Linked DNA regions of Homo sapiens. The protein of the gene in region 2 interacts with the protein of the main gene of each other region in a pairwise test. Each region holds a gene or a part of one and is shown on either strand. Other genes may lie near its edges.

The links. Proteins that work in one complex are often made in the same cells at the same time.
Region 1: the proteins of PIGP (region 2) and SMAGP interact in binary tests that used the Homo sapiens proteins (3 or more experiments, as listed by UniProt).

Annotation. Positions count from the first base shown.
Region 1 is NC_000012.12:51,263,916-51,267,415, forward strand, and holds part of SMAGP (small cell adhesion glycoprotein), read right to left. Parts: intron 1-3,500. UniProt on the Homo sapiens protein: May play a role in epithelial cell-cell contacts. May play a role in tumor invasiveness and metastasis formation.
Region 2 is NC_000021.9:37,064,874-37,067,472, reverse strand, and holds the end of PIGP (phosphatidylinositol N-acetylglucosaminyltransferase subunit P), read left to right. Parts: intron 1-92; coding exon 93-211; intron 212-1,760; coding exon 1,761-1,891; 3' UTR 1,892-2,099; downstream 2,100-2,599. UniProt on the Homo sapiens protein: Part of the glycosylphosphatidylinositol-N-acetylglucosaminyltransferase (GPI-GnT) complex that catalyzes the transfer of N-acetylglucosamine from UDP-N-acetylglucosamine to phosphatidylinositol and participates in the first step of GPI biosynthesis.

The DNA.
Region 1 (3,500 bases), on a different chromosome or scaffold from region 2:
CCATTCAATTACTAATTATAAATATTAATTATATTATATTATATTCTTCCTTACACTGATGCAGTTGTAAAATATGATTTTTAATATTTTTTTAAGTGAAGGAGGAGCCCACAAAGACAGAAGTGCCCAGGGCTCAGGAGTCATAATGTGGCCCTTCCTTTCAAGGTTCCTGGAGGATATCTTCTCTAGGAAGTCTTTATAGACTGTGAGGGAGGAATAGGTGGGAAGGTGGGGGAAGAGAAATGCAAGACAGGGGTAGAAGAGAAGAGCTGGCCTTTAGTGATCCCATCATTTAAAGTATAAGCTTTCTTCCTATCTGTGATTTCTATTCTTTTGTCTATTGCTGTCTCTGAACTTACACTTGCTTGGACCCAGTGGATAGGAGACTGTCCTAAATCACTACTTCACTCATGTCACTCGCTGGATCAAGAATGCAGCCAGGTGAGGTGGCTTGCGCCTATAATCTCAACAACTCAGGGGCAGAGGAAGGAGCATGGCTTCAGGCCGGGAGAGTTGCCTGAGCAACATAGCAAAACCCTATCTCTACAAAAAATTTTAAAATTAGCTGGGCGTGATGGTGCACGCCTGCAGTCCCAGCTGCTCAGGAGTCTGAGGTGGGAGGATCCCTCAAGCCCAGATGTTTGGGTCTGTAGTGAGCCAGGATTGTGCCACTGCACTCCAGCCTGGGCAACAGAGTAAGATCCCATCTCTTAAAAAAAAAAAAAAAAAAAAAAGGTCAGGCACAGTGGCTCATGCCTGTAATCCTAGTACTTTGGGAGGCCAAGGCAGGCGGATTGCCTGAGCTCAGGAGTTTGAGACCAGCCTGGGCAACATGGTGAAACCCCGTCTCTACTAAAATACAAAAAATTAGCCGGGTGTGGCAGCGTGTGCCTGTAATCCCAGCTACTCAGGAGGTTGAGGCAGGAGAATTGCTTGAACCCGGGAGGTGGAGGTTGCAGTGAGCCGAGATGGTGCCACTGCAATCCAGCCTGGGTGACAGAGCAAGACTCCATCGCCAGAAAAAAAAAAAAAAAAAGAGAAAGAGAGAGAGGACTGATTCAACGATCAATTTTTTAAAAAAAATTTTTAAAGGATATAAATATACAACTGAACAAGAACAAAACAAATCAACTAAAAAATGGGACAAGACTTGAATAGACATTTCTCCAAAGATATACAAATGGTCAATAAGTACATGAAAAGATGCTCCACATCACTATCACTAGGGAAATGCAAATCAAAACCACAATGAGATACCACTTCACACACAATATGATGACTACCATTAAACAGAAAGTAACAAGTGTTGGCAAGGTTGTAGAGAAACTGAAACCTTTATGCATTGCTGGTAGGAATATAAAATGGTGCAGCTGCTGTGCAAACCTATATGGTGGATCCTCAAAAAAATCAAACACAGAATTACCACATGATATAGCAATTCCACTTCTGAGCATACATCCCAAACAACTGAAAGCAGGGTCTCAAGAAGATATTTGTACACCCATGTTTATGGCAGCATCAGTCACAATAGCCAAAAGGTGGAAGCAACTCAACTGTCCATCATAGATGAATGGATAAACAAAATGTAATATACACATACAACAATATTATTCAGCCTTGAAAAAGTAGGAAATTGTGACATGCTACAATATGGATGAACTTTGAGAATATTATGCTAAGTGAAGTTAGCCAGACACAAAAGGTCTATTGTATGATTCTACTTACATGAAGTACCTAGAGCAGTCAAATTTACATAGACAGAAAATAGAACGGTGTTTGCAGGGAAATGGGGAATCAGTGTTTAATGGGTGTCAAGTTTCGGTTTGGGAAGGTAAAGTTCTGGAGATGGATGGTGGTGAGGAACATGAATTACTTAATACAGTAGTCCCCCCAGGCCAGGCACTGGCCTGTAATCCCAGCACTTTGGGAGGCCGAGGTGGGCGGATCACGAGGTCAGGAGATCAAGACCATCCTGGCTAACACGGTGAAACCCCGTCTCTACTAAAAATACAAAAAATTAGCCGGGCGTGGTGGTGGGCGCCTGTAGTCCCAGCTACTCGGGAAGCTAAGACAGGAGAATGGCGTGAACCCATGAGGCGGAGCTTGCAGTGAGCTGAGATGGCGCTACTGCACTCCAGCCTGGGTGACAGAGCGAGACTCCGTCTCAAAAAAAAAAAACAACAGTAGTCCCCTCTTATCTGCGGTTTTGCTTTCCTAGGTTTCAGTTACCCGTGGTCAACTGCAGTCCGAAAACATTAAATAGAAATTTAACAGAAAAAGAAAATTCCAGAAAGGAACAATTCATACATTTTAAATTATGTACCGTTCTGAGTAGCGTGATGAAATCTCACACCCTGCTCCATCCTGCCTGGAAAGTGAATCATCCTTTTGTGTCCATGCTATAAACGCTTAGTAGAGTACCACAGCGCTTGTGTTCAAGTAACCCTTATTTTACATGACAGTGGCCCCAAAGCACAAGAATAGTGATGCAATTTGGACATGCCAACAAGAAGTGCTTCCTTTAAGTGAAAAGGTGAAAGTTCTTGACTTAAGAAAAAAAAAAAAAGAACTGTGTACTGAGGTTTCTAAGATCTATAGTAAATAAGACATTTTAAGTGAGAGAGACCATTTTCACATAACTCTTATTACAGTATATTGTTATAGTTGTTCTATTTTATTATTATTGTTAATCTCTTACTGTGCCTAATTTACAAGTTAAGCTTTATCATAAGTATGTATGTACAGGAAAAAACACAGTATAGATGGGGTTCAGTACTATCTGAGATTTCAGGCATCCACTGGGGTTTTTGGAATGAATCCCCTGTGGATAAGCGGGGACTACTCTACCACTGAATTGTCTGCGAAAAAATGGCTAAAATGGTAATACCTGTACTATGTTTATTTTACCATAAATTTTAAAAAAGAAAAAATGGCATGAGCCTGTAATCCCAGCACTTTGGGAGGCCGAGAAGGGCAGATCACTTGAGGCCAGGAGTTTGAGACCAGCCTGGCCAACATGGCGAAACCCTGTCTCCACTAAAAGTATACAAATTAGCCAGGCGTGGTAGCGCACGCCTGTAATTCCAGCTACTAGGGAGACTAAGGTGGGAGAATTGCTTGAACCCAGGGGGCGGAGGTTGCAGTGAACCGAAATTAAGCCACTGTACTCCAGCCTGGGTGACACAGCAAGACTTGGTCTCAAAAATAATAATAATAAAATTTAAAAAATGTAAACAGCTCCCCCTTGCCAAGGTTCTAATCCCTCAGCTAGCTGCCAAGGTATCACCTTTTTTCCCTTGTGGGCAGGATTATTCTGGAGGTCCTCTGCCCACCCGCTTCCTGAACATCCTCCAGGGTAAATCGTCTCTGTAGCTTCACACATGGTATGAGGTATTCTACCTTTATCTAGAGCAGGTACACACGAAAAAGGTATTCTACGTTTCTCTAAGATACCTGCTGCGCCCCTTTGCCTGTATGAACCTTGTCCGTCTTTCAAGGGC
Region 2 (2,599 bases):
AATTTAAAAAACATGTTGGCTTTGTGACCGACTCTTGAGAATTACAACTTTTTTAAAGTGTCTATTATGTACTTTAATATTCTCTTTGGCAGATATTGGGCAGTTGCATTACCTGTCTACCTCCTTATTGCTATAGTAATTGGCTACGTGCTCTTGTTTGGGATTAACATGATGAGTACCTCTCCACTCGACTCCATCCATACAATCACAGGTAACTTTATATAAAAGGAAAGTGCTGGGGCAATGAAAGAGTGGAGTATTAGCACTTTTACCCAGAAAAGCAACAAAGAACAGGCTGCAAAACCCATGTTGGTGGTGCGCGTCTGTAATCCCAGCTACTTGGGAGGCTGAGGCAGGAGAATCACTTGAACCCAGGAGGCAGAGGTTGCAGTGAGCCAAGATCCCACCACTGTACTCCAGCTTGGGTGACAAGAGTGAAACTCCATCCTAAAAGAAAACACACACACACACACACACACACACACACACACACACACACACGGACAGTAAAAAGAAGCTACTAAGAGAAATAAATACAAACTTATATAAAAGGAAATATTTGCATGAAGGAATTAAGTTCTGATGAATACACACTAGCTATATTCATGGAGGAAATAAATTATAATTAATTATAGCACTGGTTAGCAGGTGTATGTTCCCATAAAAACCACAAGTATATGCTATATGTGTCTATAATATGTTCCCATTAACTTTGCCTGAGAGAAGCTTATCCTGAACAGACACCGTTGATCAAGGGATAGTAAATAGTACATGCAGACCTTGTTCAGAAAAAGGACTTTGGGGGTGTGTATCCTCCTCAGGATCATTGTGTACTCCTTATTCCAATTAAGTGGATAAAAGAGCCACAACACGTTCGTCTGGTTTTATTTTTTTAAAGTTCTTTCAAGTCTAAAGATGAAAATAAATCAGACTCCTGAGCTTGCTTAAATTCTAGAAAGTAAAGTATTTTTTAAGTTCCCTGGTATGATTTTTCAACTTTTCAAAACCTTTATATATTAGCCTCTACAATGTATTTTGAAAATCAATTCTATTATTTTTAAGTGTCTTTCTAATACACTGCATTCCATGCATTCTTGATTGGAATTGGCAGCAAATAGGTAATTTGTGCAAAGAGGGGAAATTGTTAAGATTGCATGAATATTTATACCAAATGATTTAATAGTTTTGCCATGTTGATTTAAATACATTTTCAAGGCCTGGATATAATTCTGTTCCCGTGAGAAATGTGCAAATGAGACTTTAATCATCATTGTATGGTTGATTAAAATATTGATTTCTTTCCAAGTTAGAGATGAAAAAAGTACTTTACTGATGTTTTTATTTTTTTATTTTTATTTATTTATTTATTTATTTTTTATTTTTTATTTTTGAGATGGAGTCTCGCTCTGTCACCCAGGCTGGAGTGCAATGGCGCAATCTCGGCTCACTGCAGGCTCCGCCCCCTGGGTTCACGCTGTTCTCCTGCCTCAGCCTCCCGAGTAGGTGGGACTACAGGCGCCCGCCACCTCACCAGGCTAATTTTGTGTGTTTGTGTTTTTAGTAGAGACAGGGATGTTTTTATTTTAATTGGGACATTTCTTCTAAAGAGAGGATTTAAGTAATCATCTAATTATGTTAAACATGATGTTTGTCACTATCCAAACGTCAGCCTAGTAAACTATGTGGTGGGTCTCCATCAGACACAGAGACTGTAGAAGAAATTGCTTAGGTAAACAGAGCTTTTTGGTCTTTTCTTACAGATAACTATGCAAAAAATCAACAGCAGAAGAAATACCAAGAGGAGGCCATTCCAGCCTTAAGAGATATTTCTATTAGTGAAGTAAACCAAATGTTCTTTCTTGCAGCCAAAGAACTTTACACCAAAAACTGAACTGTGTGTAACCATAGTAACACCAAGCACGTATTTATTTATAAGTTTTTGCCATTATAATTTTGACCATAAATTAATTTGACCATCTCTCTTATTAATAGAGAAGTAAAAAATGTAAGTTGACCTTCTCTTAGATTATGTTCAATGAATATTGTAAATGTTCAAGTATTGTTAATGAATAGAATAAATACAATATTGCATTCCCATATAGCAGACTTAAAAAAAAAAATCAATGTCAGTATAATCAAGAAGTTCCTCCAGAGAGGCATTTATATTGTAATTTGCAAAGGGCAATGATGTCCTTCCTCCTGTTTGTCCTGAGGGGCCCAGAATTCAAACCCTTAGTTTTTGGGAAGGGTACAGTTAGTACTTGTGCCATCAGATTCATGTCTAAGACACAAATATTTGTTGAGTACTCACTGTGTACCAGGTATTTTTCTAGGCACTGAGGATGAAGTAATGGTAAGATTCTCTCTCAAAGAGCTTATAGTTTTAGAAGCAGGGTGAGGCAACTAAGCAAATAAACAAGGAAATATAATTTGATGAGTGCTATGCAAAGAATTAAGATAATGTATTCTAGAATGCAAAGGGATGACTAGTTCACATTGGGTGGTCAAGGAAGGCCTCTCAGAGAGAGGCTGTTGGGATCTAAGTATAAAGCAGGTGAGGCAAAGACCATAAGGTGGGAAGGAACTTGGTTTGTCCTAA